Homo sapiens: one gene and its partners. The protein of the gene in region 3 interacts with the protein of the main gene of each other region in a biochemical or structural test. Each region holds a gene or a part of one and is shown on either strand. Other genes may lie near its edges. The genes, in order: TCOF1, NOLC1 and KBTBD8.

Region 1 (7,733 bases), on a different chromosome or scaffold from region 3:
TGGGAGCATCTGGCTTCTACCACTAACAAAGGCATTTTCTCTTACTGGTAGAGAAATGCTCTGAGGCTAATTTTTTTTTTAATGCACTGTTTTGTTTGTTGCTGTCTTAATAGTTGCCATGTTATATTTTATCAGTTTAATGTTCTAATTTTGTGCTTGGGCCCTGAGGCAATTCAGTGAAGGGTATGATTTGGAAAATGAGGGAAATAAAGAAATTGTCCACAGAAGAGACAGCCTCCCAGGAGCCGAGGACAAAGCATAAGTGCCGACAATGAATTTTATTAGGAGCAAAACAAAAACAACCTGTTGCCAGACAGAAGGTATTAGACAATCCTGGTGTGGTTTTGTTTTCGTTCTTTAATTTAATTCCAGTTCTGCATTTCTTCCAGGGTCAGCCAAGGATGCACAATCCAGTTCCTTCCCCACTGCCTTCCAAAGCCTTCCACATTCCTGCCTCCAGGCCTAAACTCAGTGAGCACCTTGCCTGCCCTGCCCTCCCTTCTTCTTCAGGAGAGGTCTGTAACCATTCCTGCACTTGCCAATACTTATTAAGTGCCTGCTGTATGCAGGCACTGTGCAAAATGTTGGAAATAATGCAACCAACAAGGCAAAGGTAAGTCTGCCTTCAGGGAGTTTACATTCTACTAAGGCATGCATTCTCAAATGGGGCCTTGATGCCCTCGAGGAAATGAAAACTGGTTCCTGGAGGTGTTGGTGGAAAAAAATCTTAGATCTTACAATGGTTTGTATGCTCATCATGTACATTCATCACCCATCCAGCCACCCAAGCAGAAACCTGGGTGTCACCACCAGTTCCAGCTCCCAGCCCTCTCTGATCTCAGGGGTCCCTCATAAGGCCTGGCCCGTGAAGGATTCCACTCTCTCCCTGCAAACATCCATCTGCCTTGCTTCCCTCGCTACCCAGTGTAGATCCCAGGACCCAGAATTTTAGCATCTCTTTGCCAATACTTTAGACTCCTGTGCCCTTTTTTCCCCACCCATCTGGCAAAGCCCTAGGCCTGGATAAATCCCACTATGTACATACATCTCCCCAGCCTGCAGCTGGGTAGGTGAGCCCTGATGGAGGAATTCACTCAGCAGGACAGGACGAGACACACATACACTAAGGACCACCAACCTCAACTGGGGAGCCAAGGCTGTCAGGCAATTGGGGATTTTGTGGGCAAGTTGCTTCTCAACACTCTGAATGATCATTCTTTCAAACTCCTCACCACCTCTTCTTCACTCTCAGCAGAAGACCTTGCCTCCCACTTTGCAGAAAAAATAGAAGCTCAAAATGAAATCTCCCTTAACATCCCACTATAAACCTACATCTACATCTGCACCCATCCTCTCTTTGTTCCTGCTTTTGGGTTCTAGAGAACTCATCCCTCCTCCTCCCCAAGACGAACCCCCCCAACCCACATGCCTGATCCCAGCCCCTCGCACATGCTTGAGAGAACTTTACTCGCTGATTATCTCCCCTATTTCTTACACTCTTGGTTAACCTCTCTCTCCTGGATCTGCCATTCACTTTTAAACAAATCTCAGGTTTCTTCTACCTTGAAACACACCTCCCCTAACATACATATTGGCCCTAGCACTTTATCTTTCTCGTCCTTTTTATACAAAAACTTCTCGAAAGACCCACTGCCTCCCTCATCCCTCCTGCACTCATCAGACCACTGCCATCTGACCCCCTCCATCATGCCACACATAAATAGCCCTCCCTAAGTCCCCAACAATCTCCACGCCTGTCCATAAACCAAAGCCCAGGGCTGCACCCTCCTCCTATCTGACCTCTCAGAGCATTCCCTCCATCAAGTCTTCCCAGCTTTCTAAAATGTCTCCCTTGGCCTCCTTCCATAAGCCCACTCTCCTGGGCTTTCTCCAAGCTGTCCAGCCACTCCTGATCAGCCTTTGCAGGCAGATCCTTTTGTACACAGCCCTAATCTGTAGATGTACCTCAAAACTTCATCCTGGGCCATCTCTCTTCTCTCTCCACATTCTTCTCCCTGGGTAAGCTTCTCCTCATCCACAGCCGCAATTATCATCTGTCTATCGACAACTTCTCATCTTCATCTCTAGCCCAGACCTCCACGCCACGTCCAAACCCAGGTTTCCAAGAACCTTCTCAACATCTGCATGTGGTGACTGTAAGGCATTTCAAGCTCAAGATGTCTAACATAGAATATATACTTTCACCTCTCTGTCCACATCCTCCTCTCCTCAATCAAACCACCCCCCTGTCTCAGTCCTCTTCTAGTTTTTTCTATCTCAGTGAAAAATACTGCCTACTTGTTTGCACAGAAACCTCAAGGTCCATTCTGACATTGCCTTTTCCTTCCCCTCCCATTCCAACACACCTCTGTGAAAACTTTAGTTCCTGATTAACTCTGGGAACCTTCCACTCTCTTCAACTCCACTGCCACCAGCACCCTCCCCGCTGCCCCCGCCACCTACCACCCGCCCCCCCCCCCCACATACACTGTCTTCTCCCTGGATGCCTGCCTGCACTCCTAACCCTGACTTGTCTTCCCACATCTACTCATACCCACCAGACACACTCCACTCTCCACTGGGCAGGCACACAGGTCACAGTAAAATTCAGATTTCATCCTGTACCTCTTGGGCTTACACCGTCAGTGGCTTCCAATGGCTCTTAGGATGGAGGAAAAAAAACCCTGATGTGGCCAATCCTTCACATGGAGTCTGCCCTCTGCCCACCTTCTACACTCCCCAGTCCCCCTGCTCTCCCTCCGGACTATGCTACAAAGGCCTTTTTGTGTCTATTCTCTCAGCTGTACCTTCTGCCCTAGGCCCTTTGCACAGGTTCTTCCCTCTGCTCAGGTTTCTTCTCTCTGACTCTCCCTTACACACAGTTCTGGTTTCCTCATAACCATTAATTTCTCAGGGAATCCTTCCCTAACTCCCAAGAAAAAAATAGATCCCTCCTTCCTGTTATATGCTTTCACAATAATAGCACACACGCACACAGAGAGCGCTATTGTTCAGAGCTCCTCTAAGCATTTCTGCTGAGAATTCATTTACTCCTTATGACAACCCAGTGAGGTAGAAATTATAATTATCTCCATTGTACAGATAAAGAAACTGAGTCACAGTGACTTGCCCAAAGTCACCTAGTTAATGAGGCAAAGCCAGAATTTGAACCCAGGCAGTGTGACTCCAGTGCAGCTTTTAAACACTATATTATTACATAAGAAAACACTATCCTTTTCCTTCCTGCACTTACCCGCTGTTTGTAACACTGTATTGTATGACTATTAGTTTAGTATGTGTCTCCTCCGTTAGACTGTAAGCTCTATTGGAGTAGAGACAATTCCATCACTAGACTGTAAGCTCTATAGGAGTAGAGACTATTCCATCCCCAATGGTAGGTACTCAATAAATATTTGCTCAAGAAAATGGGAAATGTTGAATGTGTACAGACACATAACATTTTCCATTCAAGTTCAAGACAAAGATAACCACATACCTGGACCTCCTAGGGTTAGGGACTCCTGCGCCCGTAAGAAACATGCTGCCCTCAGATTCTCAATGGGTCGGTGAAGTTAAGAACAGCTCACTCTAACATTCTCCAGCCTACCTCACCTTTTCCCTGCCATCCTTCCCTCAACAACTACAACAGCCTCACATTTAGTATTAATGGTATGTGCTTTGGTTTTAGCAATCTTTTAAAAACACAAAACAGGGTCAACCTCCTCGGAAAAGCCAGTCAGAGACTATCTAATGCCCTCAGAGCAAAGTCCAAACTCTGTTGGGGGTGGGGGAGTTGTAGGCCTTGTCTACTTCTTCATCCTCATGTGCCCTCATTTGTTCCCTCTTCCCCACCTCACCCCACCCCACCTGGACAGCCCAGCAGCGCAGACTAGGGGTTCTGGGTTTAGGGTTCCCAGGCAATAGCAGGGTGTTTTCTCATGCCTAGACTCATGCAGTGCCCTCTGCCAGTCCTCTCCTTTGCACCCAGCAATTTCGGGTGTCTTTATGCCTCAGCTTAGATATCTCTCTGGGGTTCGGTGCTCCTCCTTGGGGCGCCCATAGGCTGCATCTGTCCCTGACAAGGCACACAAGATATTGAACTATAGTTGCTTGGTTACGGACAGTCGTCTCTGTGAGCTTTGAGGGCAACTGCCATGTATTATGCATCTTTTGAATCCCCCTAGCCTAGCCGGGTGCTAGCCCAAGTTAGGTGCTTATTACAGATTTGTTCAGTTAGCGAATGAATCAATGAATAAACTGGCAATTCGTGTCTGGTTCATGGGCACCAAAAACCGTGCGAAATGGATAAATGAGCAGGTAATGGCAGTACAAAGTTCGGATCTAGAGAAAGATCCAGATTAGGGAGTTCAGAGATGAGTAAAACGCAGACCCAGCCATCAGAGAATTAACAAGGAAGATAAATCTCTTCAAGAAGCCAGCCGGAAGGATTAAAAGAGAGTCGTCCAAGTCCCGGCCGGCCCCGGGGGCGGGTCCCTGTCTAGCCCCGCATGCTCCGCGCCAATGGGCGGTATTGTTGATCACGAGTCTCCGCCCCCTTCGCCTTGAGGGGCGGGGCCGGCCACTCCCGGAGAGGGGACTACGTTTCCCGGCGCGCCGCGCGGCCGGAGCGAAAGAGGAGCCGGAAGTGTGGCGCGCGAGGTCTAAGGGCGCGAGGGAAGTGGCGGGCGGGGACTAAGGCGGGGCGTGCAGGTAGCCGGCCGGCCGGGGGTCGCGGGTATGGCCGAGGCCAGGAAGCGGCGGGAGCTACTTCCCCTGATCTACCACCATCTGCTGCGGGCTGGCTATGTGCGTGCGGCGCGGGAAGTGAAGGAGCAGAGCGGCCAGGTAAGCGTTCGTGGGCCGTGTGCGAGGGCCGCGTGCAAGATGTGGAGATCAGCGGCCCGCGGCCCGCGCCCCGTCCCCAGGCGACCCGGCAGGCGCCCGGAGCCGGGTCCCGCAGTGCTCGACGGCGCGGCCAGGGGTACCGGAGGAGCCGCAATCTCTGCCTTCCCACTGCGACTTCAGTTCCCCTGGGCCTCACTTTCCTCATCCGGGCAGTGGGTTGGGCCAGAAAGTGTGCTCGCAGGGGCCGAACTTTGTAATTCCCGCTTCCCTTACCTCCACGCCCTTCCTGGTAGCGGGTATTTTAAGTTTCCTAAGTCTCCCGCCACGTGGCTAGGCTCTGCGCGGCCCCCCCTGGGGCAAGGAGGTTGCTGCGAGTCTCGGGGGTGGATTGCGACCAGCCCCTCGGGGGAGCGCCTGGAAAAGGGACCCTACAGCCTCTTAGTTGAGCTGGAACTCAGGCCTTTAGCGATTGTCTGTACTGAGACGGTCAGCTTTGGTACTCGAACTCGTGGTACAGTCATTTCTTACTTGATTAATTCAACTGTTAATCCGGTACTCAGGGTGCTTCCTGGTGTTCGAATGGTGAGCACCATCTCTCAGCCCTCCTGGAGCTTACACTCTAGTAAGGTAGACAAATCAAAGAATCACAAAAGTGACTATATGCTTAGCACCGCAATAAGTGTTAAGAATGAGAGGGATGGGCCGGGCACGGTAGCTCACGCCTGTAATCCCAGCACTTAGGGAGGCCGAGACTAGCGGATCACCTGAGGTCAGAAGTTCGAGACCAGCCTGGCCAACATGGTGAAACACCGTTTCTACTAAAAATACAAAAATTAGCTGGGCATGTTGGCGCACGCCTGTAATCCTGGCTACTCATGTGGCTGAGGCACAAGAATTGCTTGAACCCGGGAGGCAGAGGTTGCAATGAGTCAAGATCGTGCCACTGCACTCCAGCCTGGGCGATAAAGCGAGACTCTGCCTCAAAAAAAAAAGAGAGATGGATGGCAGATTGCCCTGGTCAGGAATAGCTGAGGTGTAAATGCCTTGTGGTGGGAGGGAACTTGTGTACACACTGGCCTGGAGAAAGTCCACTCTCTTGAGCCCAGGAATTTGAGGATACAGTATGAGCCATGATCATGCCACTGCACTCCAGCCTGGGCAACAGAGCAAGACACTGTCTCAAAAAAAAATTTTTTTTAAGTCCATAGCAGGCCAGGTACGGTAGCTCACGCCTGTAATCCCAGCACTTTGGGAGGCCGAGGCAGGCGGATCACTTGAGGCCAGGAGTTCAAAACCAGCCTGACCGACATGGTGAAACCCTGTCTCTACTAAAAATGCAAAAATTAGCCATGCATGGTGGCATGCACCTGTAGTCCCAGTTACTCGGGAGGCTGAGTCAGGAGAATCACTTGAACCCAGGAGGCAGAGGTTGCACTGAGCTGAGACTGAGCCACTGCACTCCATCCTGGGTGACAAGGCGAGACTCCATCTCAAAAAAAAAAAAAACGTCCATAGTGGCTGAAGTGTGAAGTACAAGGGCCAGATGCCCCTGGGGAGATGGAGGCAGGGGCTGGCTGGAGTGGTCTGGTGGGCAGTTTGATCTTCCTTGGAAGAGCAGTGGTAAACCAATGGAGAGTTTTGAACTGGTGAGACAGTATCCTAAGTAGTCAGATCCCTTTGCCCTGTGGTGTAGGCTCTGCTCCTAATGCTTGCTCTCAGAACCTCCTGGAGGGACTAAAGGGTGATGGGCCCTAAGACGTTATGTATGCTTTTCCCAGTTTCTCTGAACCTCACTTGCTCTTCCTACCGCAGCTATGGTACTTCACAGATAAGGGGAGCAAGAGATAGTACCCATCTTCATTGGAGCAAAATATCCTGCCGTCATGGAGCACACATTCTAGTAGGAGCAGACAGGTGACAAATAGAAAAAGTTTAATAAGTTAATGATATAGTATATCCAATGATAGTTGGTGCTTGCTATAAAAGGCAGGCAAGGGGGATAAGGGATGTCAGACTTCGATTATAAGTAGGGTAGTCAAGGAAGTCTCATTGAGAAGGTGTCATTTGGGCAGAGACCTGAAGGAAATGAGGGAGTGAGCTGTGTAGTTAACAGGGGAGAGAACATTCCAGACAAGAAGAATAGCAAGGCCGCGTTAGAGGCAGGGTGGCCTGACACATTTGAGGACAGCAAGGAGGACACTTTGCCTGAGGTGGAGCAGAGGGAAACTGACTCTTGAAATCTTAGTGTTACCGGCTCACTGCTGGGCACTGACAGATGGTCTTGTTCAAACCAGATAGCAGCCTGCAAGGTAGGTATCGCTGTTGTCCCCATGTTAAGAAGAAATCTGAAGTTCGAAGACGTGACGAGATTAGTTCAGTCCACCCGTGCCCCACATTGCTTAGCCTCATTAGAGTACTTGATATCCTGGCTTATTGACATTTACAGAGACATTGGGCCCTCTGGCCTCTGCTCCAAAGGCCTGGATTCCACCTGGTTCCCTCTGCTTCCACCAAGGGACTGGTACCATTTGGGCCCAGTCTTCTCCCAGCAGACTAGTAGACTGTGGTCATGCCACCTGGATGCCTCAGGTGTCTGGGCTGTGATTCGTGCTTTGGGAAGATTGGCTGGCCACGTCTTTGAAAGCTTTTTTAAAGGTCAAAGGTGGGGAAAACCCTGTCTCATGGCCTCTAGGCATGGATAGTGCCAGAGAGGCTGGGAGCTGGATGAATGCTAGCTTGGAACATTCCACCTCTGGCCTTTCAAAGGGGTTGTCTAAAAAGGTTTTAGTTGGGATTGGTTGTTCTTCTTGTCTCTGGAAGGTTTGGGACAGAACTGGCAGGGCCAAGCAGACATACTTCCCAGAGCAAAAAGACCCTCTTTTTTTTTT
Region 2 (8,056 bases), on a different chromosome or scaffold from region 3:
TCAAGACCAGCCTGGGCAAGACAGTGAGACCTCCATCTCTCTCTCTCTCTCTTTTTTTTTTTTTGAAATGGAATTTCGCTCTTGGTCGCCCAGGTTGGATTGCAATGGCACTGCGGTTGCTTGGCCTGTGGTGGCTAAACGCCTGTAATCCCAACACTTTGTGAGGCTGAGGCGGGTGGATCATCTGAGATCGGGAGTTCGAGACCAGCCTGACCAACATGGAGAAACCCCGTCTCTACTAAAAATACAAAATTAGCTGGGCGTGGTGGCGCATGCCTGTAATAATCCCAGCTACTCAGGAGGCTAAGGCAGGAGAATCGCTTGAACCCAGGAGGTGGAGGTTGTGGTGAGCCGAGATTGCACCATTGCACTCCAGCCTGGGCAACAAGAGCGAAACTGTCACAAAAAAAAAAAAAAAAAAATTAGCCAGGTGTGGTGGTACATGTCTGTAGTCCTAGCTACCCCAGTGACTGAGGCAGGAGGATTGCCTGAGCCCAGGAGTTCGATGCTACAGCGAAGTATGATTGCATCACTTTACTCCAGCCTGGGCGACAGAGTGAGACCCTCTAAAAGAAACAAACAAACACAAAACAATACACAGAAGAGTACAGGATCAGGCCAGGTGCAGTGGCTCACGGGCCTGTAATCCCAACACTTTGGGAGGCTGAGGTGGGTGGATCACCTGATCAGGAATTTGAGACCAGCCTGGCTGGTATGGTGAAACCCCATCTCTACTAAAGATACAAACATAAGCTGGGCGTGGAGGCGGGCGCCTGTAATCCCAGCTATTTGGGAGGCTGAGGCATGAGGCTGAGGCACAAGAATCGCTTCAACCTGGGAGGCAAAGGTTGCAGTGAGCTGAGATTGCACCACTGCACTCCCGCCTGGGCAACAGTGAGACTCTGTGGTCCAAAAAAGAGTAAATGATCAGAGTCAGTACAGATGGGAACTCACCTTTGGACAAATTACCTTATCTCCCTGAGATTATTTTCTTTTCTATAAAATGGAGATAATACTACACATCTCATTAAGTTATTGAGAGGATAAGACATAATGCATGTTGGCCGGGTGCGGTGGCTCACACCTGTAATCCCAGCACTTTGGGAAGCCGAGGCAGTAGATTCTTGAGGTCAGGAGTTCAAGAGCAGCCTGGCCAACATGGTGAAACCCCGTCTCTACTAAAAATACAAAAAAAAAAAAAAAAAATTAGCCAGGCATGGTGGGGCACACCTGTAGTCCCAGCTACTTGGGAAGCTGAGGCAGGAGAATCACTTTAGCCTGAGAGGCAGAGGTTGCAGTGAGCTGAGATCGTGCCACTGCACTCCAGCCTGGGCGACAGAGCCAGACTCCGCCTCAAAAAAAAAAAAAAAAAAAATTAAATGCATGTGAAGGGCGTAGCATCTGACCCTTAGTTAGCTCTTCACAAAGATTAGCTTTTCTCACATAAAACCATTTCAGAATCCTAATCCTGAGGCCGGGCACGGTGGCTCGCGCCTGTAATCCCAGCACTTTGAGAGGCTGAGGCAAGTGGATTTCTTGAGGTCAGGAGTTCAAGACCAGCCTGGCCAACATGGTGAAACCTCATCTCTACTAAAAATACAAAAATTAGCCGGGCGTGGTGGTACGCGCCTGTAATCCCAGCTACTGGGGAGGCTGAGGCAGGATAATCACTTGAACTTGGGAGGCGGAGGTTACAATGAGCCGAGATCGCACCATTGCACTCCAGCCTGGGCAACAGAGACTCCGTCTCAAAAAAAAAAAAAAAAAAAAAAGAATCCTAATTCTGAAATGTCCAATTCCATCCAGTCCACTGTGAAAGCACTCTCCGCAGTCTCCTTAACAGTCAACTCTAAACAGTTTCATTAAGAAAGCAGTTAGATCACATGGCAGCCTGTCCCAGCTTAAGGAAGTTTTGAGGCTGATCTGATTCTTTGCTTTCGCAGCCTGATTCTGCTAAAAGTGCAAGCCATCCTTCCTAGTCATGCTATCATCCCTGCTGAAGACCCCCCCTCTCTCCTCTCTCAAAGTGTCTTCCCATGCAGGAATGTCCGTTGATGTAGATTACAAACCTTTCACATTCCTGGTTCTCTTACTCTTACATGTGTTTGGAGCATCCTAAATTGCCATAACTATGGTACAGCTTTCACTTTTACAAGATTCCTCTGTACCAGCACTGAGATTGCTACTCTTACACATCATCTTACTGAAACTCACAAAAATCCTATAAAGTGGATGATGACATCCCTGTAGAAAGACTCAGAAAGGTTAAATAAACTGCCCGGGTCACGTATCTAAAAAGTGGCAGAGCCTGGTCCCAAACCTAGGTTTGTTTGATTCAATTAGCCAAAGCTCCAAGCCCACTACTATGCCTACTTGGTAGGGCTGTTGATGACTCTCAATTCTCAGTGTAACTCAAAACAAAACTCTGCTTCTACTTTCATTCATTTTCTTCTTTACAAACGAAAATCCCAGACTTCATTCTAAAGAAATTTCACTTGCTTTTGAATCCCAGTAAATGTGACTGAGGCTAAGGTCAAATCACGGTTTGCCTCACCCAACGAAAAGCCCCCCAGAAGATGCCGAAGAACCAACGTCCTCAGTGGAACAAGACTCTACCTCCCCGCTGCACTCTGCCAGCCATGTGGCTTGGGGCCACGAGGCTCCCACGCTGCCGCCGCTGCACAGGTCACAAGAAAAAAGCAACAAGACTCAGCGATATCTACTCAGACATGGAGGAAGGTAAGCGACCGAGGCCGCAGGCTTTCTCTGGTCACTGCCGAGGGGTCGGCGTAAAGGCCTTGCAGACACTGGACTGGCGGACCCCCAGACTTCCCCACCTGGAAACCTAAGCACGTCAGGGCCTGAAGCCTTGTGGTCATCTCAGCCCGGTCCCCGCCCCAAGCCCGGAACTCACAGCTCCTGTCGCTTTGGCGAACTTATTGGCCACCTCTGAGAGTTGGTTATCGCGCAGGAAGCCGAGCACGAGGGGATACAGGTCGCTGGGAACCACGCGGCGAATGCCGGCGTCCGCCATCCTCCAGGCAATACGCGTCACTACCGTTGTCGACGCAGCACGACTCAGGAACCCAACAGGGGCAGTGGGCGGGCCTGTGTTACGTCATTGCGCCGCGCGGGCGCATAACGGAAAGGGTGGGCTCCACAGGGCAGTCCCACCTTCACCTCAGAGGTAGGGTAGACGGGAAATCTATAAACTCTTTCCGGTCCCACGCGTATCGCCATCTTGGTTAAGGGCGGAGCCCACCGGCCGCCAGCTTGTGGAGGCGGAGCTCTGACGTCAGGGATCACGCCCTCGGCGTGGCGGGAAAACTCGGGACTTCCCGCGCAGTCTTTCTGGGGGAGGTACCTTTTCTCAGAGCAGCGGTTTCCCGCGCCCCTGCTGGGACTCGGATTCCAGAGTAATGAGTGGACAAGCGGGCTCGAACAGTTGTTCTACAAGATCTCCCAACCGCCCCCATGGCGTACTGGCACGGCCAATGGATTCTCGCCCTTCATCTTCACTGCCTCCAATACCCAGGGAGGCCCTTTCTGATACCATCCCAGCCTCCAGACTCCTGCCTCTGCTGCAGAAGATCCTTCGGGTTATCCGTCGTGAGGGTGGGAGGTGTTGATTTCCCAAGCTGCCCCTCCCATCTCCCTTATATTCCGCCTTAGGTCAGCTCCATGAAGAGGAAAGGTGTCATGCACCAAACCTGAATCACACACAGCAACAATCTATTCAAGCTGAAGAGATTGTTGAAAATAACCCTTCTTCCTCCGGGATCAGAGTTCACACTCTGCCTTTGTCATGAGTAACTCCAGTATCAATGCCTTTGTCATGAGTAACTCCAGTATCAATGCTCAGACCTACCAAGTTAATTCCAAGTTCTGCCACATTCCAGATATTAGCAGTTAGCAATCCCTTCAATCCTACCCACTACCCCTTGGCTACCTCCCACTAATGCCGCTCAGGAAAGATAAGGATCCTCATGGGAACACACCCCCCTCTCCTATATAAAATTGGCCAGGCATAGTGGCTCACAACTGTTATCTCAACACTTTGGAAGGCCTAGGTGGGAGGATCCCTTGAGCCCAGGAGTTAAGAGGCCAGCCTGGACAACACAGTGAAACCCCCCTATCTCTACAAAAAATTTTTAAAATTAGCCAGGTGTAGTGGCATGCACCTGTGGTCCCAGCTACTTGGGAGGCTGGGGCAGGAGGATCAACTGAGCCAGGGAGGTCAAAGCTGCAATGAGCTATGATCCTGCCACTGCAATCCAGCCTGGGCCACAGAGTGAGATCCTATCTCAAAAATCAAAAACAAAGCTGGGCACGGTGGTTCATGCCTGTAATCTCAGCACTTTGGGAGGCTAAGGTGGGTGGATCACCTGAGGTCAGGAGTTCAAGAACAGCCCTGGCCAACATGGTGAAACCCTGTCTCTACTAAAAATACAAAAAAAATTAGCCAGGCATGGTGGCGGGTGCCTGTAATCCCAGCTACTCAGGAAGCTGAGGCAGGAGAATCACTTGAACCCGGGAGGCAGAGGTTGCAGTAAGCCAAAATCGTGCCACTGCACTCCAGCCTGGGAGACAGAACAAGACTCCATCTCCAAAACAAAACAAAAAAATTCAAAAACAGAAACAAAAAACTCCACAGTTCCCTCTTCCCCACGCTTCCTGTTCTACCCACATGCATGCATTATTTAAAACATTTGAGCACCTGCTGTGCCATGCAGTGTGCTCAAGCTATTATAAAATGATGAACATAACTGACATGATGAATGTATACACCTGTCGCAGTTTAGAAAACCTTTCTTTGGAACAAGTGTGAGCTTCTCTAGGTCCTTGTTATCAAAATCCCTTCCTGGACCAGTATCATCATCCCATTGTCAGAATCTACATTCTAAAAAGATCGCTAGATGATTCAAATTCCCTTTAAAGTTGAGAAGCACTGTCCTAAATGACTCATTTTAGACAATACATCTGAGGAACCAAGGTTCAAATCCAGTGGGATTTTTGCACCTGACCAGGGAGAGGCATGTCCCTGGACCATGTTCAGATAGGAAAAGTGAATACATTTGGCATTAGCACCATATAAAGACGCACAACAGCAGTTGGGAGTTCTCTCTAGTTGATGTTTATTAGTCTGCATAGTGACTTATGTTCCAAACACTGGGGATCCCCTCAGCCCCTCCTATCTTACATAGGAATGCAAGTTAACTTGTTTCAATACCTGTTATAAAAAAACAAATACCCCTTTTAAAAAATCTGATTCAACATATTTTTTATTTCACTTTTTTCCATTTCTTTATAAAACAGTCATCTCACTAGCAGCTCTCTCCCCTAGAGTAGGGGAAGGGGGTGGAGGAGGTTGGGCACCTCCAAAGGAGAAAAAGGATAGCAGGGAAGGGCCCAAGGTTACCTCCTGAGGTTCTTCTGGGCCTGTTTCAACAATGTGTCAAAGTCAAGAGAATCAAATTTGCTCTTTACAGGTGCTGGGTCAAAGTCTTCCCGGTTGGAGTCTATAAAGGTAAAGACAAACTTCAAGGTCTCTGACCACACTTCCCAACCACAGGGTCTGCAAATGGCTAGCTATCTCCCATCCCAAAAACGGATGGAGTGAAAACTGCTCTAATTTTAAGTCAAAGAGATAGGAGAGTCCCCAGTCCCCATTTCTCCTCTCGTCCCACCCCTTGGGTCTTTTTTTTTTTTTTTTTTGAGACAGTCTCGTTCTGTAGCCCAGGCTGGAGTGCAGTGTTGTGATGTCAGCTCACTGCAACCTCCGCCTCCTGGGTTCAAGCAATTCTCCTGCCTCAGCTTCCCGAGTAGCTGGGATTACAGGTGCGTGCCACCACCTCTAGCTAATTTTTTCTATTTTTGGTAGAGATGGGGTTTCATCATGTTGGCCAGGCTGGTCTCGAACTCCTGACCTCGTGATTTGCCTGCCTCAGCCTCCCAAAGTGCTGGGATTACAGGCGTGAGCCACCATGCCCAGCCCCCTTGGGTTCTTTGTATGTCAAACTAAGGTAAGTCTGCCTAGCCCCACTCACAAAGGGTTAGGAACCCTTCTGGGGAGGGGATGAAGCATTCCAAAGCTTTAGGCCCTCCCTCCACTCACCAAGATCAGAATAGCTCCTCTTGCAGAACTGCCTTCGGCCCCCAAAGCAGAGATCAAAGGGCTGCTCATCTGCCTGCCGCAGCTTGTGGCCACTCTCAATGGCTGCAAATGCCTCCTCAGCATAGCGATAAGTGACGAAGCCGTAGTTGTCCCTAGTAGGAGGAGAGTGAGGCAGGGGCTGGAGTGGCTATATGGGCCCATGCCATAGAGGAGACACAGCATCCCAAGGTACAGAGGTGGTTCTTCTCATTCCCAGTGGCCAACCCTCTGACTGCAGAAATGAAGGTGCCCCATATTGCTCAGCACACCAGAGCAAGGAGGCAAGACAAAGAAACACCAAGGTAGATGAATGGGATAGAAAGAACATCCTGAGCCTGGGGCCCAAGCTTACCCTTGGACACGGAAGTGGATGGTGCACTCCTCAATCTCTCCAAAAACGGAGAACCTCTGTTTCAGCTCTGATCGAGTCATGCGGCCAGGTATCTTTCCAATGAAGACCACCCTTCTTTCTTCCTATGTTTGGAAATGAAAAAAAATCAACACACCATTAGCCAGGGCTACAGCTGCAGGCAGCTCTCTGAGCTCAAGGCTCAGGGGGTAAGCCCCATCCTCCCATGATCTGTTCCTCTACTCACTATTGCACGCTCCTTTTGTAGCACTCTTTGCCTTTGGTAATGGTCATGTGAACGATAAGAGCTGTACCTGACAAAAGAGGGTGTCATCAGCCCCCCAAACATAAGACAATTCAAGACTCAACTCTTAGGCACCTGCATCCCAGGTGCATGGCGCTCCCTGAACACATGCTCACCGCCGCCTCCTGTCACTTCTCCGGCGGGGGGATGGGGATCGTGAGCGGCTTCGAGAACTGGATGATGAGGATGAGGAAGACGAAGAGGAAGATGATGACGAAGAAGAGGAAGAGCATCTTCGAGAACGTCCAGAGGAACTACAGCTGGACCTGAAGGATAAGAGGGCATGCAGGAATGCTGGGAGTGGTTCAGGTATACTCTGCTTATCTCACCCAGGCCCCAGTCCTGCCTTTCTTTTAGGAAGCTCAGGACCAAAGACAAAGCAGAGTAGAAGAGGTCTAGAAGAACAATTTTCATTCAGAGATGAACAAACTGAGGCCCTTCATGGAACTTTAGGTGTACCTGGAATGTTGTGAAGTGTTTTGGAAGAGATCACATTTTCAATTGTGCACTTAAAAATTGAAAAATATTTAACAAATCAGAAAGAGGAAGAACAATAAATGGAGACTCAGGGAGAGGGGTGAGCCCTAGGTCTCACACCCAGCTATCTGTGGTGCTGGGGCCAAGCCTGGGTCTTTTGGGTTACTATTGCTCCCCTACCAGGTCTCACTGAAATACTGTGACCATGAGAGAGGTTAACTGCTAGACTTGTAGTATGGGCCAGTTCTGAAGACATATATCATCTCCAAAACCCAAGAATTCTTCATTAAGTGGGAAAACTTGGTTACTGAGAAAAAAAGATACTGCCAGGAAATAGATGAGGCCATAGTGACACCCAAAGGAACTGCCCCAGACACCTTCCTCAGCAGATGATTAAGGGAAGAACTATTTTCTATTAACAAGTAACCCACTACCTCACATAGCGCCCAGAATACCAAAAATGAAGGCTGATACAGTATGTGAAAAAAATCAACATGGTCAAAATCAAACCCTAAAAGTCTCCCCAAGGCAGGTCTCAAAGAAGCAGGAGACCTGACACCCCAAGCTCCAACAGGGGACAGAAGCAATTGTCTCACAGCTTGCCTCCTTCAACAATCCAGGAAAAGGGAAAACACAAAAGCCAAAGTCAGAAATAGAAGCCTTAGCGCCTGAAAGTACCAAAGTCAACGGGTAAAAGCTTTCAAAGTAAACCACAGAAGTACGTGAACTTCCTAAATGGAGAGGACCTACAGGGCCATCAAAGCTCACCTTC
Region 3 (7,083 bases):
GTTATTGAAATTCTCAAGGCTTTGGTCACTTCATTGTAACTTTGTTCTTAGAAAATTTAATTAAAAGGTGAAATTAAGTGCAATAAAGTAGGTAACACAACCATTAATTCCTTTTCCTTGTTCTATTCCTAAATTAAGCCCTATCAATATTAAAGTGAATGCTTTACCTTCTGGGTCAAGCCAAGATAAAGCAATTAGGCAAGAAAGTACTCCACATCACTTTTGCAAATAGTTCTATGGTGTATCCTCTTTGGATGCTCAGCTTAAATCCCACACCAGCTGAACAGAATTTCTTATCTCTTTCGAAATCCTTAATATTAATTGTTGGAAATACTTATTTTATGCTAACTAGGGGTTGCCCTTAGTTCTCATTTTCTAGTTGATTTTCATGGGAATAAGTTTTATTTTCACAGATAAACCATAAGATCCTTGAGATTAGGAATCTCATATCTCTACATCCATCTAATCTTTATCTATCTATCTATCTATCTATCTATCTATCTATCTATCTATCTAGTTTTGTATAGGAAACATTGATTCAGACAGTGCCTTCTTAGAATGCAGGTTGTGGGAGGAGGCAATCAATATTTCTGAGGAACTGAATATTACTGCCACTAGCTTCAAAGTCTTTTTTTCATGTATATGCTAAATTCCAAATACTTAAAAATTAATGCACATTAATATCCTCCAGTATGATCAAATTCAGTGATTCATGAAATGCAATCTTCTAGTTATTACCATGTTGAATCCTCATATAACCTCAAAGGGAATAAAAAACTAAAAATACAACAAAGCCCAGTGGTGCCCAATCAGTAAACCTAATGTTAGTATCTATTTAGAGTTTTGTATTTAAAGAAACTAAATCATGGGCAATATATAAAGTTTTAGAAATTTTAAAAAACTTTGTGTATCTGATGTCATATTAAATTTATATTGAATAATCACTTTTGTTGTTTCATTTATCTAGCCAATGCAGAAGTTTTAAGCAAGAAAAAAAAGTCACATTGAAAATATCAAGAAGGTTGTAGCTGTAGGCTGAGAAGTATAAATATATAAGGATGTCAGTTGCTAAAAGGTATGAGTTTCAAGTATTCTGTCTTTACTTTCATTTTATATAGCTCTGGTCAATTTCACAGCCCCAACCAGTACTGAACAGGGAAATTGGAAAACTGCAGAATTGATTTGCAGAAGTGAAGTTCTATTTTCTTTTACACCTTCTTCATCAGAGTTGCTATCATTCTTGTGTTGTGTGGTATTATTGAGAGTAGCCTGGGTATAGCTGATAATTGCTAAAAGTCATTCTCTTGAAATGAAAGCAGAAAAAAACAAGGAGCCTTCAATTTCTCATTTTCCAAATTTGATGCTTTCATAATCCTTCATTTTTGCTAGAATTTAAACGTAAAAACTTTTCTTCTCTCAAGCAACCATGATTATAGCAATTCTCTTTGCTTGTGATTCCTAGGTAAAAAAAAATATTAAAATAATAAAGCTCTAAGTGTCTAATTTGAACTAAATATAGGACCTTCAAATATTCTGGTTCAGTTTTTCAGTTTCCATCCTTAATTGATTTTACTTTAAACTTTAAATATAGGAGTAAATTGCAATATAGTACTTAATACCTTAAGATGAAAACTGGTTTACTTTTGCTGCTCTTTCCAGATGTGCAGTAGATTCAGGAGGTTTTTACTAAAATTCAAATTAGAGGTGTTTGAAAACAAAGCTGTAACCTTTGGCTATTTAGTATCAATCCTGAAAAGGAATCTCCCCAGTATTCTTACAGATCATTGAGAAAGAATTGTTGTGGTACAACTGACTGAATTTCGAGATCCTCCTACATATTCTGTGTTTTTTAAAAATGCATTTTAGTGATGATTAAATCTTTACTATGTAATGCCATCTGCCCAGTAGAATGGAGTCCATTTACAGTGTCATATAAATGGCAACTTTTTACCTATAATTTTTTTTCTATTTATTTTTAGATTGGCTTTTGTTCTTTGTATTCTGCTGCATCTCCAATTTATAAATCTTTGTGGGTCAAAGAATCAGAACACTGTCTTCTCACTAATCAAACAATATTGTCAAGTCTGTTTGTTACTAAGTTGAGAATTGAATTTTTAAAAAATTGGCCAAGTTTCTTAAGGCTTAAATAGATAGATGGCTACAAAACAACAACAAAGCACAAACAAAACTCCTCTATTTTAACAGATTTGAAAAGGTTGCCAGATAAAATACAGAACACCCAATTAAATTTAAATTTCAGATAAACAACAAATGATATTTCAGTTTAAATATTTCTCAAATAATGCATGCCCTGTATTTTTATTTGCAATATCGTCAGATGTTGTCAAACCCTAAGGATTAACGCCATTTTTTTCCTCAATACTAACCATATTGTCATAAAGTGCTACCATTTTAATAAATTAGAAAGCAACATCATAAAAACGAAAAAATAAAGTTATGAGTAACCAAAATTAAGTCAATTTCATCTATCCAGAAACGTGCATACAGGACATTCACAAAGAAGAAATTATAAGTGCATATGTATATGCAGAAACCCCAGTCATGAGGAAACACCACTTCCTGTTAACTTGCATGGGATTATAGTATTTTAAGTTCTAAATTTCTCAGCAGACCTAGAAGACAGAACTGAATTGTTTTTCATAATTATTTCTCTTTCTCAATCACAATTTAAATTCCAAGATCCTTTCTTTATCAAGAAGTTCAACGGTTTGATCTTTTCAGTGCTAGAAAAGTTATGCACACGGGCTAACTATATGTCTACTAGAAATTCTTCCCATTCGCTGATACTTCCTTACATTTTAACATCTAGAAATAGCATTCCCAATGTTAGCTCATTTGCACCTTACATTTATTTTTAAAATATGAAACATCTATAATGTGCCAGGCACCCCGTTAGATGTTAGAAACACAAGATGAGTAAATAAAAATTCGTCAACAGTAAAATTTTGATTTTCTTTCCAAAAGGTTGCAGCCTATGAAATCCATGGAGTACGGATTACTATTACTTCACGTTACAGATGAAGGATCTAAGCGCTCAGGGGTTGAAAGGTCTTATGTCAGTTCTCACATATAGTGACTAAAGAGCCAGGGCTTCAGTAATCATCCCTGGCTCCGGGCTCAGGGCATTCCGGTATTTTTTCAAAGGAAATTCCGGAATACTTAGTATTGTATCCCCTCCATTTCCCAAGAGCAAAAAGTAAAGCATCTTGGATCCCCTTGTAATGTTCACGTGAGGAACAGGTGTTCTCTGGGTGTGCTAGAAAAGCAAGGCACCAGTGGGAGTTGAAGATCCTAAGCAGCCGCTGTAACCAGACCAAGTTAATCTGTGGAAACCAGAGCACCCGGCCAAGGCGATGCTATTTCAATTGGGTGTCATAGGTGACTCATCAGAGACGCCTTGCTTTTGGGCCTTGTGATATTTTTCTTCAGGGTGGGACGTCAGATTTCCTTTGCATTTTTGGACAACAGCCCTCCTGTCCATTTCCACATTTTTCTGGTTTTACAGCTCTCACGCAGAGCTTGATTTCATACCGGAAGCTAGTCACTGGCAGGAAGTTTACGGAAGAAGAAAAAGGTAAAAAAATGTGCCGGGGGCCAGGAGAGAGGCCTAAAATGGGGAAATTCGCACTTGAAGAGCTTTCCCTACCCCAGCCCCTCAGAATGACAGTTCTCCTCCGCCAGAAGACTACCTCTCCCGGCAGGCACTGCGCGCTCGACGGCCACAGGCTGGCCAGCTCCCTGCTCTCCACCTCCATCCGAATCAGCCAATAGGAATTCCCGGCTTGGGCCTCCGCCCGACCCGGACCACGCGGGAGCCGGGGCAATCAAACTACATTTCCCGACACGCATGTGCTCGCGTCGTGGCCAATCAGCGCCAGGAATTCGGAGGCTAGGGGTGGAGCCAGATGCACAGGACACCCCATTGGCCAGGGGAAGCTTAGAAGAGCCGGAACCCGGGAGCTAGAGAAGCGAAATGACATTTCCTTTTTAAATAGCTGGAGTCGGGGCCCCATCGAGAAATGGCCGCGTCGGCAGGTGGGTCGTGTGGTGGCCAGGGCGGCGTGGAGGGAGGTGAGGGGGAAGGTGGGCCGGGGCCGGCCACAGGCAGTGGGATGAGGACGTAGCGGTGCGGAGCTAGAGGGAAGGATGAAGCGGTGGAGGGGAATGAGAAGAGGGAGGATGAATGGTGCGGAGGGCGGTGGGCGGTCCGGCGGGACCGGGATGGGGAGGCTGGGTACCCGCCGGCGCTGCGCCCCAGGAGGCAGCGGGAGGCGGCTTGAGGGGGCACCGGCGGCCGCCGTTGTTCGAGCTTCCCTCGTGAGGCTCTGCCCTCGGCTCTCGGCGGAGTCCGCGCAGACGCCTCTCCTGGGCTGCGAGCGCGTTTCCTCCGCGAGCACGGGTGCCGGGCTCGCCGGGCTCCGCAGGAGCAGGCTGGCCTTTGAACTTGTTCCGCCGATCGCGCTCCGCCCTCTGTCTCCCAGATCCTTAACTCGCGGTCCCACGAGGTCGTGCGTATATCCACAGACATTTGTATATATCTTGTAGGGGGAAAAAGCCTAGCAAGCAGACACACAAACAGAAAAATCCCGCGATGCCGTAACTGGCTCGGCACTTCTTGTAGTTGTACGATTTTTCTCCTCCTAGATTTAAGTAAGTCTTCCCCAACACCGAATGGGATTCCATCTTCAGACCCAGCCAGCGATGCCATGGACCCCTTCCATGCTTGCAGTATTCTTAAGCAACTCAAAACAATGTACGATGAAGGACAGTTGACAGACATTGTAGTGGAAGTGGATCACGGGAAAACATTTTCCTGTCATAGAAACGTTCTTGCTGCAATCAGCCCTTACTTCAGGTATGATGATGGTAGGAACTTCTGTTGGTATCTGCACCAAGCTCCCTTTCCCCCTCAGTATTGTCCACTTGATGTTTATATTGAGATGCGATAATGAAATGAAACCAATGACTTTGTTTCTTGAGACTAGAAAACAAGTCCTCTCTTAACTAAGACCTTCTTTTGACTTGAGGGATTCTTCTAGATTTCGGGTGATTGCTTTTTAAGTTAGTGGGCCTGTGTGTGTGTGTTTGAGGTAAATGACCAGAAAATCTAGACTTGTGCTGGTCAGTATGGAAGCCAGTAGCCATGTGTGGCTGTTTAAACTTAAATTATAAGTTAAATAAAATAAAACATTTAGTTCCCCAGGTACACTAAATACTTTTTGAGTGCTTGCTGGTCACCTGCAGCTAGTGGCTGCCATATTGGGCAGCACAGAAATACAGCATTTTCATCATTGACAATTTTATTGGACAGTGCTGATCTAGAATTTCTTTCAAAAAGTTATCCATAATGCATGTTTCTTTAGTGTATGGGACTCTTTTATAAAATAGTTTAAAACATGTAGCATGTTCCTTCAAAAACAAATTACCACTCAATAGATTGTTTAAATGCTATGGGGGTCAAAGCAAGAATGAATATAGTTTCTTTGTGCCTAAGGCCCCAAATTAATAATATCCAAGATTTCTAGAAGTATGTTAAACGAAGTTTTTGTTTTTACTTATATTGTCTACTATAAAACTTTTAAAAGTAAAATTTAAAAACTTGGGTCTGAAAAATAACTTCCTACTTTAAGATGAGTGGAAAAGGCAGTTTTCTGCATGGGCTTAACTTCTTTTGTGTCAAATGCTCACTTTAAGCCTTTCAGTATTCACAAGTGGTGCATAAATAATAGTAAAGTTATCAACCACACTCTGAATGTGATTTTTCCTTTTGAAGGTGCTTACCTTTATAGGGCACATAACCATATAATGTTCCAACAGTAGTTTCTGGTTCCTCTTTCTCAGAATACTGGGTTAAATATAGTCACTTCAGTCTGATGCTTGTGATGTAACCGTTTAGACTTGCCTAGGGTAGGTCATTGGACTACTAAGTATTAATCATCGCAAGACAGTGAGCTGGAAAGAAAAAAAAACTCACATATGCAGAAGGTATGAAGTTTGGCCTGGTAATGGAAACTTCTAGTGAGATTCACTTACCCAGATTATCTATTAGATATGGTTAGGTCATTTGTATGTTTAAATATATGTCACAGTTACTACTTATCAAGCTCTAGGCTAAGCTTACTTTACATGTATTGCCTTATATAATCTTTATAATCCTATCTCTGCATAGTTGTTGTTCCATTTTACTTATGAAGAAGCTGAGGCTCAGTGAGATTGAGTTTTAATAACCTGCCTAAATCATCTATCCAACAAGTAAATGGCAGAGGCTACATTTGATTACAGAGCCAGGCTTCTTAGTAGCCATATGACTCTTAAGGAACAAGAGTTGGTACAGTTTCCTTTAAAACATTTTTATTGTATATTGCATTTGAATAGTAAAAACAAAAACAAAACAAAACAAAACAAAAACTGCAAAGTAAAAATGTCTATATCTTACTGAAATTTAATAATCTGGATTATATCATTTAAATGTCATACTTATGTATGCTTACTAAGTATACTTATTAAGTATAATACTTAGTAAGCATACATAATAAATATGATATATGTATACATATTAAGTATACTTATTAAGTATAATACTTAGTAAGTATACTTATTAGTAACTTTACATAAGTATGACATTTTCACCTTGCAGTTTCATTTTTTATTTTTGAAGACCTGGAAAAAAATTTTACTTTAAAAGAAGTATGCTATGATAGATTTCTAATTTTCTTGATTCCTTAAAATCTTAAATTCTTTAATTTTGTTAAGTCAATTTTTAAAAGGAGTAAAAAATACTTGAGAAATTTTCTGGGGATACGATATGTGCATTGAAATAAAGATATTTGGCTAGAAACCTCAAGGATTAGAATTTGATCTCTTGCTAGAGGTTTTTGTACTGAAGTTTCTTGGTACCAGCGCTGCTTCCTGTGTGGGATGTAGAAAATCGTACTTAATGTTTCTACGTCTTGCATCACTAGTGGAAGAATTAGAACGGCTGGAAATCTGGAATGGCTGTTTCATGATACCAGTAACTCATCAGAATTGAAATTTGTATGATTATTAGAAATTTTTTGCTGC

What was found.
Region 1: the proteins of KBTBD8 (region 3) and TCOF1 form a complex in vitro, tested with the Homo sapiens proteins (2 studies listed by BioGRID, with this or other methods).
Region 2: the proteins of KBTBD8 (region 3) and NOLC1 form a complex in vitro, tested with the Homo sapiens proteins (2 studies listed by BioGRID).

The regions. Positions count from the first base shown.
Region 1 is NC_000005.10:150,353,010-150,360,742, forward strand, and holds the start of TCOF1 (treacle protein), read left to right. Parts: upstream 1-4,687; 5' UTR 4,688-4,737; coding exon 4,738-4,845; intron 4,846-7,733.
Region 2 is NC_000010.11:102,147,389-102,155,444, reverse strand, and holds the start of NOLC1 (nucleolar and coiled-body phosphoprotein 1), read right to left. Parts: upstream 3,057-8,056; 5' UTR 3,035-3,056; coding exon 2,915-3,034; intron 1-2,914. Other genes in the region: PPRC1 (peroxisome proliferator-activated receptor gamma coactivator-related protein 1), read right to left, coding at 5,416-5,519, 6,116-6,267, 6,507-6,628, 6,751-6,817, 6,924-7,073, 8,053-8,056. UniProt on the Homo sapiens protein: Nucleolar protein that acts as a regulator of RNA polymerase I by connecting RNA polymerase I with enzymes responsible for ribosomal processing and modification.
Region 3 is NC_000003.12:66,994,316-67,001,398, forward strand, and holds the start of KBTBD8 (kelch repeat and BTB domain-containing protein 8), read left to right. Parts: upstream 1-3,991; 5' UTR 3,992-4,040; coding exon 4,041-4,056; intron 4,057-4,665; coding exon 4,666-4,876; intron 4,877-7,083. UniProt on the Homo sapiens protein: Substrate-specific adapter of a BCR (BTB-CUL3-RBX1) E3 ubiquitin ligase complex that acts as a regulator of neural crest specification.